Linked DNA regions of Homo sapiens: all the other regions are linked to region 3. The links come from fine-mapping of genetic effects on gene expression. A gene starts in region 3. Each other region holds a variant in brackets. All regions are shown on one strand. Distances are between the middles of the regions.

Evidence for each region. PIP is the estimated chance that this variant, and not a neighbour inherited with it, causes the effect.
Region 1: its variant is the best candidate, but not a certain one, in a credible set for the expression of LHX9 in lung (TOPMed, PIP 0.60).
Region 2: its variant is the best candidate, but not a certain one, in a credible set for the expression of LHX9 in lung (TOPMed, PIP 0.51).
Region 4: its variant is the best candidate, but not a certain one, in a credible set for the expression of LHX9 in liver (GTEx, PIP 0.75).

The regions. Positions count from the first base shown.
Region 1 is chr1:197,941,818-197,944,509 of GRCh38, reverse strand. No RefSeq gene overlaps it. Among named protein-coding and RNA genes, the nearest start is that of LHX9, 26 kb to the right of the region's middle. The variant A/C (reference allele first, on the strand shown) is at 1,440.
Region 2 is chr1:198,092,977-198,095,668 of GRCh38, reverse strand. No RefSeq gene overlaps it. Among named protein-coding and RNA genes, the nearest start is that of NEK7, 63 kb to the left of the region's middle. The variant C/T (reference allele first, on the strand shown) is at 1,286.
Region 3 is chr1:197,916,288-197,918,979 of GRCh38, reverse strand. It overlaps LHX9 (LIM homeobox 9), which reads right to left and starts at 1,608. Exons shown (of 5, transcript NM_020204.3): 1 at 983-1,608. The coding sequence starts at 1,156. RefSeq lists an enhancer at 311-1,037.
Region 4 is chr1:197,965,562-197,968,253 of GRCh38, reverse strand. No RefSeq gene overlaps it. Among named protein-coding and RNA genes, the nearest start is that of LHX9, 50 kb to the right of the region's middle. The variant T/C (reference allele first, on the strand shown) is at 1,469.

The DNA.
Region 1 (2,692 bases), 26 kb before region 3:
CAGAACCTTTGATGCAAATGGTACATTCTCTTAAAAGGCACCCTTACACAGCTTTATGAGAGGAAGACATCCAGGGGAAAACAGAGCTGAAGGGGAGAACATGAAATCACCTCCTATTATGTACTCAACAGATGCATGAGTATGTTTGAAACATCCCTAGGGACTTTAACATGTTTCCAGTAGGGGGTCTAAGAGAACCGTGGAAGTTGGGTGTCTGAAGTTATATGATGCCCTCTGGTACCCCAAGATAGACCAGGCCTGGAAAGATGCAGAGATATGTATGTTATTATTCAGAAATTATTTTACCCTAAAAAAACTCATGAAACACTTTAATAGCTTTTGCTGAACTCCAAGCACTGCCTTCTATTGTACACCCTAGTTTTTGCCACTTTCTAAAAGTCTCCTGACAGCTGTCTGGGCAAGTTCTCTGAGAATGAGACACCTTTGTGTAACTGCCATTACTCCATCATGTTTCAATTCCTGCTTTTCAGAGCTGCTCTACCCTTACTAATTTGAGGAAAAATGTTCCTGTCCCACAGGTTAGGGAAAAACTCAAGGAATTGAATGGAATCATCAAAACGTTAGTGCTGAAAGTAAAGAGCATCTGATCCAATGTTTTCCCAAAGTTGACTGATCACTTGGGGTATATTTATGAAGAAAAAGAAAATGATTTCAGGAGTCTTATATCGGGGAGAGTGAGGGCCAGAAACCCCCCACCCCCCGGCTTTTTTTTTAGCAAGCCCTCGAGATAAACCTTCAGATCAAGTAAGTTTTGGAAGCTGAGTTAGGGCGGCCTCTCCAATGCCAACACTGTTCAAATGATTCACTTGAGGTTACAGCTTTATTTTGTCATGTTTACATTTTCCCCATATAATTGACTGCCACAAGAGTATCACTTTTGTTCCTTTATATATCAAAGTCTTTGACAGGATTTTATGTTTGGATCTAAAATTGTGGTTTCCAAAGTGTTCACTTAGAAGTTTCCAGACTCCATGGCAAGGCTTAAGGTGTTGGAGACAGAATGGTGGAACCACGGCTTTTATTTTTTTTTTTCCAGTGCTCTCTTCTCTCCACCAGAATAGCTTTACTCTTATCTGATTTATAAATTCAGTTTTATGGAAAAGTTCAATGAGCAATGTTTGTTACTTAAAAGAAGAATTTGAGAATAAGCGATATAAAATATTTTCATCTGCAAGCCTGATCAATTTTAGAAGTTCACCTGCCTCAAAAGGAAAAAGTGTTCCAGAGCCTCTTATTTCAAAGTTCATTCAATGTTCATTAATCTCCCTGCTAGTAACATCTATGTACACTTATCTAAAGGCCATATGTATTTTATTAATGTAGAGATAGCCAATTATTGGTCATTGTGCACTTCAAATAGTTCATACTTAATAAGGACTTAGCATCAATTTGGTAGAGGAGTTTAATACCTATTTTCT[A/C]ATGTAAAAAATACAAAATCTACAACCAACCTTGAAAAATAATAAACACCAGTGAGCTGTAGGCTCCTGGGGAGAAAACAGCATACACCTCCTTCTTTTACAAAGCAATTCTCAACCAGGATGATGCAGCCATGGAAGCATGGCAAACCCTTCCCAGCTATGCTGTGAACACCTCAAAGATTTGATGCCGCCTGGGCCCAGTGGCTCACGCCTGTAATCCCAGCACTTTGGGAGGCCAAAGCAGGCAGATAATTTGAGGTCAGGAATTCAAGACCAGCCTGGTCACCTGGCCAACATGGTGAGAAACCCCGTCTCTACTAAATATACAAAAATTAGCCAGGCATGGTGGTGGGTGCCTATAATCCCAGCTACTTGGGAGGCTGAGGCAGGAGAATCACTTGAATCCAGGAGGCAGAAGTTGCAGTGAGCAGAGATTGCACCACTACCCAACAGAGCGAGACTCTATCTCAAAAAAAAAAAAAAAAAAAAAAAAAAAAAAAAAAAAAAAAAAAAAGGATTTGATGCCATGCTTTAACTAACGTGCAGAATTTATTTCTGCTCTGAGTTTATATATTGATAAGGTAATGCTGTTGGTTTCAGGTCATGTTTAGCCAGATATGCTTGATACCAGCAACAGAAGAAAATGTAGTTTAACACTAATCTGGCACCAAAGAAATATTTATGCTTATTGAAATGTGAGATTTTGCCTTATGAATACATAAGAAAGTCTGCTCAGAGCAATACACATTCTTACTCAAACCAAGACTCAGAACTGAAGGATAGACAAGTGAACAGTACAATTAAATGCCTTTGTCATTAATGAAAGGCGTTATGATTCAGTAGTAGTGATTTTGCGGTCATCATTAGTGACTTGTTCAATGCTCCTTTGAGTCTCTTAATTCCTTTCAAGTGTGCCTCCTGAAACTCTATGGTGGTAACTGTTCTTACAAAATGGAAAGAACTACTACAGTAACATAACTAAAATATTCAGGGCAAAAAGATTTTATCCTTCCCAATCAAAGCACCAGGACTGGTCCCTGGAATGCTCTCCCTATGAGAAATTCATAATGATGCTGGGTGTTGCTTGCTACAGAATAGGATGAAAATAGTTAGCACTCTGACTTCCATTCTCGAGAGGATAACCCCACATAGCACTTACTGGTCTCAGAGAAGGAAAGTAAGACTTGAACAAGTCCTGCTGGGTCCACGTCATTGCCTTTCCCTTGACTTACATTATGAAGAATGGTAAGTGC
Region 2 (2,692 bases), 180 kb before region 3:
TGCTCCTGTGTGGAGAATGTGAAAAGATTCTGAATTCTGTATCCAGATAGTGAAGGGAAAGGACAGATTAATTTTAGGGGTGCAGAACAAGAAACTGAGATGGCAGATAACATTCAGGTTATATTAGCTCTCTCCCACTCCCTTCAAGAGCAAGGACTATGTCTTCTTCATCAACCACATTCTCTTCAACATTTACTTCAGTGTTTAGGGGTTCATAAATATTTGTTGAATAATAATGCAGGAAACTTATATGTCATAATAACCTGTGAAACCCAAAAAAACTATATCCTAATAATTTGAAGGAAGGAATTTAAAACTGACATTGGATGAGTAACAGCAGTAAATATAATTTGCCTTTTCCTAAGTAAGCAAATCCTCATTCTCACATGATTTTATCCAAAATAGGAGCTAATACAGGGTTATAACATGCTCATCCATACTCAACAATTAACTGTTAAATTATGGGAACATAAATTAGACCTGCTAAGTAGAACCTTTAAGCCTCAACCTTTCAATTCTAATAGTATCATTTCTATGGTCAGTAAAGATTAATAATTCATCTTAAATAACTCGAATATGAAGAATTAGTTAACATTATGTTACCAGCTCTTCTGATTATGCATTCTTCTTGAGCTGCCAGTAATTTTGATTTACTGACAGAAAGCATATATTTTGTTTTCATGACATTTAGCAGGAATATGCCATTTATCAGCCTTTTGTTTTTACTAAATCTGAAAATTCATTCCAAAAGAGTTTCATAGAAACTCTTAATTACTGAAAGTGATGGTTCTGCTTCTACATAATGTTCTGAATAATAAATACTATACTTATGGGAATTAATTATTAAATCCAGCTAGGAATTATAACCTTCTTAATGCAAATAATAATAATTGCATATAATAATGTTTAACATCTGGGAAGGGTACTAAAATGAGTATCTTAATGCATGTAAAAGTAACAGATTCTATACATCATATAGATAATCACACAAATAATTCTGAGAACTTCTCTAATAGAGGTAACTGTCGGTTAAACTGAAGAGCATGAAATATCTATCACCAAGAATCGGTATGTCCCTCGTGATCTATCTTTTAAGACCCTGTATGGAAAAATCTCTTCCAAACCTAAAATTTTATATTTCTATCCAGGTGAGATGGAGAAGGCCAGGATGGGACAGGATAATATAGCAATATTGGCTTTGAAGTCAGACAATGTTGAACTTAAATTCTGGCTCCAGGTTCTCTTACCTACTAGCTGTGTGACCTTGAGTCAGATATTTATCCTT[C/T]CTGACACTCAGTTTCCTTGTTTACCTACTGGAGTATATACTACCTATTTTAGATAGGTGATTAGGAAAAGCCTCATGAAAGGTGATTTTTTTTTCAGAGTCCTGATTGATATAAAGGGTTGGATATTTAAATACTTAGATATTTCTGAGAAGTACCCAGAGCCTCAAACTCATATAGAAAATAAATATGTAATTTCTTTATACACACTGGAAAATCATAACCTGATTTGCAAGGATAATTGCAGAGAGATAGTTTTCATAACTCATAAAGAGATCACATAAACCAATGAGAAAGTGAGAAGCAATCAAATAAACAAAAATAGGACATAAGCAGTTTAGAAAAAAATACCTATGATCAATGTTATGGCTTGAATATTTGTATTCCGACAAAATTCATATGTTGAAATCCTAACCCCCAAAATGATGATATTAGGAGGTGGGGCCTTTGGGAAGTGATTAAGTCATGAGGGTGGAGCCTTCATGAATGGGATTAGTGCCTTTATAAAATAGCCCAAGGAAGCTCATTCACCTCTTCTACATCTGAGGACACAGCAAGAAGTCACCATCTGTGAACCAGGAAACAGGTCCTCATCAGACATCACATCTGCTGGCACTTTGATCATGGACTATCCTGCCTCTAGAACTGAGAAATGAACTTCTGTTGTTTATAAACATAGTCAGTCTACGGTGTTGTGTTATAGCAGCCCAAAGACTAAGACAATGAGTAAGCATAAGGAAAAAAACTCCCTTCTCTCATAATATCAGATATTAACAATTAAAAACCTAATATATATAATTTTTCACACATCAGAAATATTTTTAAAAACTGATGTCACCCAGTTCTAGAAAAAATGTGAAGTAAAGACATTCTTAGGCAGCTCTTTACAACCTCATCAACATTAAAAATGACATAATGTTTGATCCAGTAATCCCACTTCTGGCAATTTGGTCTGTGGATTTACTTTCATGATTTTTCCAGCATGTACAAGCATATTTATTGCCGAAATTATTAGTGGTAGCTAAAAAAGGTAACAACATCAAAGCTTTTATTAATAGAAGCCTGACTATAGTATATGCATATGACAATAACGTACAGGAATTAAAAATGCTAAGAGATATTTTAAAAATCATGTAAATATTTAAATAGAGACTCCCTTGAGTCTATAATTAAAGAGAATCTGACATTTTTACAATATAGAACCTTCATAATCAAAGCAAGATTTTATTCTTTACTCACTTGAAGTTTCTTTCATGTCCCCCAGTAAATTTCTTCTCTACGTCTTACATATTCTCTTTAAATAAAGTTTGTAATATTTTTATCATTTTGCTTGCTGTTTTCAATGAGATTGTTATTCATTATAATTTCTCTATTTTAAAATGTATATAGCAGGGATCAGCAAACTACCA
Region 3 (2,692 bases):
GTTACAAATATAGACACGTTCACCAGTTGGGCTACTTGGCCGGACCCAAAACCCAGCTGATAAGGGCTAGAGCAGTCTCCTGATTAGTTTGGGCTACAAGTCCTACTGTGGTACCAAAGGATCTACACAGCTATGTTTGGCCGAAATAATTTCCGGAGACTTCTGTAGTCCCCCCCCCCCCCCGTTAGTAATCTGGAAAGGGAAGCGCTTAGATAAGTAATTAGTTTTCTTTATTAAGAGGACATGACTTTATTATTATGGATAGTAGAAACAGTGGTGGTTGATTAGCTTGTTTAAGGGTTGGTTATAAAGTTCATGCGTTTCGACTGGGTGCCGCGCTCCTCCGTATGTTTTATTTGATTTCCCCCTACACATGACACCCGCCGGGTCCTGGCGCTAAACGTAGTGCTGTCTCCTTAGAGGGACTGAGTCGGGATGCCAGAAACCCTGAGATTCTCTCGGTTAGGGGTCCCAAGCCCCGAGCGTCTAGAGAACTGGAAATGACCCAGTCGCGTCGGAATCTACTCCACAGGTCCGGTCATCAGGCCCAGAGACTAAGGCCACCTGGGCTCCTGCTTGGCTCGGACGCCTCGGCAGCGCGCCGTCCTCCTATTGCTTATGCCCAGCTTGCCCTCGGAGCTGCGGATCCTCGCCGGGGAGACGCCTGCCCCGGAATCAAGGGAACCTTGAGGTCTGTAGAAGAGAATGCCACCACCCCCCATCCCACCTCCTCCCAGTTCCTCTCCCTGCTCTTTCGGAATCAGCTGCGACGGAGGATAGCCAGCTGCAGACATTTCGATTCAGAAAAACGACCGTTTCTTAGCCCTGTAGGCATAGGTGGACGGGAGAAAACTCACCCGCCACCCTCAAGCGGACGTCTCTACGACCCGCCGCTCCGGTTCTCCACCGGCCAGGGAGTCGGCTTGGTTTAACAGAGGGCGCAGGGGTGCCCGGCTACCGCCGCGGCGGAGCCCTTCCTTACCGCGTCGCGGCCGTTGAGCTGGGCGCCTTTGGCCAGACGGGCCTCAGTCTTGGATCTGCGCTCCATCTCCTCCATGATGCCTTGGATGTGGCCTCCGGAGATCCCGTGAAAGAGCATGGCTGGGGGGCGGAAAGGACACGAGTTGTCTTCTGCTCGGCACCCCACTATTTCCATATACACACGCCCGGGGCTTTCAGCTCATCCGAGTGAAGGAGGCAAGGGACCAGAGAGGGCTGCCCTGTAGGAGCGCAGAGACGCTCGAGGATGGAGGGAAAGAGGGAGAGAAAGGAGGAGAAGAAACAGATGGAGTGGAAATCGGTCTGCTTGGGGGGCCGAGGGGAAGCAAAAAGAACTGGGAAGAGTTGGGGGGAAGCCTCAGCGGCTCCCTGAAGGAGATGTGCAGAAAACAAACAATTCGGGCGGAGGGAAAAAGAGGCGTAGAAGGCGAATCTTACTGCTCTGAGAGATCGAGTTACTAATGGGAAACAACTGCAGCGGGGGGAGGAAAACAAAATCTGGTGAAGAAAGAAAATAGTTTTGAACACAAAGAAAGAAAAAGACGTGCTATTTTCAGCGTTCCCTGGCTGCTTGCAAGTTCCCAGTGCCTGTAGATTGGGTTGGGGACTGCTCCTGCCTGAGCTGTGTCCAATTTGTTAAGAGACTAAAGCCAGCCCATTTTTGATAATTTAGTAGGAGGAGTTCTCTCCCCGGAGCTGCCACGGATTTTTATTCAGACAACAAAGACCTGTCATACTCCTCTCAACCCCCTGGTGATGGGCAAGCAGGACAAACATTACAAAGGGGTGGGGGGATAGAGAGCGGGGAGGCAGGAGGAGGGGGCATTTACCTCCCCACAAAACACACACACGCGCGCGCGCGCGCACACACACACACACACACACACACATCCTTCCAAGAGTTCCCAGCAGTCATGTTTTAAAGGGGAAAAGGAGCTCTTGTTGTCCCCGCCCTGTTGCAGAAGGCCTAGAACCCGCCTATTTGATCCGAGTTCAAGATCAGACCTTGGCTCAGGACACAGAGAATATCAACTTCAAACTTTGGATTTCCTCCTTGTGGACTTTTTCATCCCCAGCCTGCAGGACTGTCACCCGAAATGCATAAATATTGAGCAGAAATGTAAGCAATTTACTGAGGTGGAGATAATGCTGGTTCCTCTCCTCCCCATCCCATCTTCCTCAATCCACTTTTAAAAGCAGCTGTCTGACAATTCATCTCTTTGCCTCACCTTCTTGAGGGCCGGAGACCCTACTAGATGCTGGCTTCATCCGAAGTGGAGAGGGCGTTTGGAGCGTCTGCATTTCTCAGGGTTACTTTTGGCAAAACAATTTTCTTTGAGAAAATTAGAGTGTAGGGGACAGGGCATGGACCTGTACACACGGGTACGCAATTGCGCCTTGGCCATAGGGCGGCTTATTCTCTTCCCCGGTTCAGGTTTGAAGGAAGGTTGCCGGAGATTCTAATGTCTCATTTGAAGCTTGCCAATATAGGAAGCGACTTGCGGACTCCCGGGAGCTTGGCGCCTGCCCCCGCAGGACTGGGCGCTAGCCCCATCGCGTGCTTCTCCCACTACCCTGGCAGGACAGAGGACTTGTAAAACTGGGCGCACCCGCACACTCAGAAGGGTGTGAAAGGGACTCTTTGCCGTGGAGGAGGGGAAGGTGAGAACTGACAAGCAGAATGGCAGACCTG
Region 4 (2,692 bases), 49 kb before region 3:
TAGGGAAATACAAATCAAAACCTCAATAAGATAACTTCTTCATATCCACTAGAATGGCTATAATCCAAAAGTCAGATTAGAGCAAGTGCTGCAGAGAATGTGGAGAAATTGGAATGCTTATAAATTGTTAGTGGAAATGTAAAATATTGCAGCTGCTTTGGAAAACTTTGGCATTTTCTCAAATAGTTAAAGAAAGATATGATCCAGCAATTCCACTCCTAGGTATACACCCTAGAGAAATGAAAAACAAATGTCCACACAGAAATTTGTTCACAAATGTGATAGTAGCATTATTTGTATCAGGCAAAAAGTTGAAACCACCCAATTGTGTGTTACCTGGTGAATGGCTAAACAAAATGTGGCAGAATCATACAATGTAATAATAATCAGCTATAAAAAGGAATTAAATACTGATACATGCCACAACACAGCTCAACCTTGAAAATGTATTAAGTGAAATAAGCCAGTTACAAAAGACTACATATTATATGATGCCATTTATATGAAATGTCCAGAATAGACACATTTATAGAGTCAGAAAGTAGAATAGTGGTTGCTTAGGGACTGGGAGATGGGAGTAGACAGAACAAGGTGCTGATAGCTAAAGGATACATATTGTATTTTGATGTGGTCAAAGTGTTCTAAAATTGAAGGTGGTAATGGTTGTACATATCTGTCAGTATACTACAAGCCATTAAATTGTATACTTTAAGTGAATGAACTATATGATATATTAACTATATGTCAATAAAACTTTTCAAAAATGTTCTAAGACCTTAGCTTTTTTTCTCTGAACCTCATGGATTGTCAGTCCAAGAATGCAATAAATATCACTGTTGTTCTGTTTACCATATAGGTCAGAAAAGAAAGAATGACTACTGACCCTTATCCCACACACGCACACACACAGAAGCTAAAAAAGTATCCCCACATTTGGAAGAGACAAGGACTATAGTCATAGTTAGAGGTCATCAAAGTAAAATTTTTCAAATTCCTGGGGAGGGAAGGGCACACTGGCCTGCCACTGCCTTCCCCTGGTCTGTCTCTGATCCTGCCAGTCCACCTGCTCTGATGGCATATGTTAGCAGCCACCCAGCACAAACAAGAAGCCTGTGCTTTAGCTTTCTTCCACCTGTGGAACATGAAAGGACCCTTTTTAATAAATCAGCAATGATCCTAAATTGTATCATCCAAACATAGTCTTTTCCATCTTCAAATCCTGTGCCTGGGCTCACTTGACAGAACTGTGATATCTTGTTAACAAGATATCTTATTCACCAAATGCTGCTTTGTTTGGCTCCTGAATCAATACAGTCTGCATGTTTGCAATAAATGTTTCCTTAGATCAGAGTATCCATAAATAGTTCAAAAATCAGAAAGTAGAGGATTAAAGGAAGTGCCTTTTTCTCATTGTCAGAATTTTTCCTCTAGTCTCTAAAGTCCAGTTTTTGTTATATGTTGACCCTAG[T/C]TTGCAAAACCAGGATTACTCCAATAACTATGGGAAAAATAAATTACTGGAGCTAAATTCTTAGGTAAGTTTGAAAAGAAAATCCTCTGAACATAAAAATGAGTAGTCTAAAGAAGAATTAATTAGTCTTCTTCAAGTAGTTGACATTATGAGAAATACCAGTTGTGCAGTCCAAAGAACATAGGAGGGACTTTGTATTTAGTAAGTAGACATTGAGTAAGTATTGTAATATTACTTTAAAATCACAAGTTGGCCAGAGAACAGCTAAGGATTCTCAGCTATGACAATTGCCTTTGTTTCTTCTAAAGATTGAATAGCTGTTGCAGTTAAATAGATGGTAGATACTCAATAAAAGTCTGATCAATTGAATTATCAGTTTCTAGAAGTATTTTGATTAAAAAGAAAATGTTATATTGGGGAAAAAGTTAGACCCTACAAATTAGAACTTACATTAACAACTTAGAAATTTTTAAGAGATATTTGATAATAAAATATGTCAAAAAAAAGCAACAATAACTAGACACCATTACCAAAATGCTCCTCATCTTAAATTGCCAATATTGGTTAAGAAAATCAACATTCATTCTATTGCCCAAGTTGGAAATCACAAGGTCGTCCTTGGCTCCCTGGTTCCATCTAATCAGCCACCATTTATTTCCTTTAGATTCTGCTTTAGCAATCTTCATATCCATTGTTTACTTTCTAGACTAGACCCTCATCCTTTATTCTTTCCTGTATTATTATAAACTGCTCTTCTAAATCACAGTCTTTGCTTCACTTCAACTCCCAGTCTGCATACACATCTGAGCTAATCATGTTACCATGGTGCTCAAAACTCTCCATGGATCTCCATTGCCAGCAACATCCAAATTCCAGGCACAAAAGGTTCTTCAAAATCTGGTCCCAGTCTGACTGCCTGGCCTTATTTTCCAGGCCCGCAGTAGCACCTTCTGGTTGCTCCAGCAACATCCCTCAATTCCTTCTGTAACAAGCCCTGTATTTTCTTGCCTCCAGGCCTCTTGCTGCTGCCTAATATGATATTTCTCTTTCCCATCCCCTTTCCTTTGCTTGTGTCCTACTTATACTTTAGGACTCACCTTACTCATCACTTCTCATTTCCTCTGTGTAGTGCCCTCTCATTCCCATCCCTGAGGCAGAATTAATTTCCTGCTTATCTGTATTCTCCTGGCACCATATAGCTCCTTGCTTATCACTTTGTGTTAT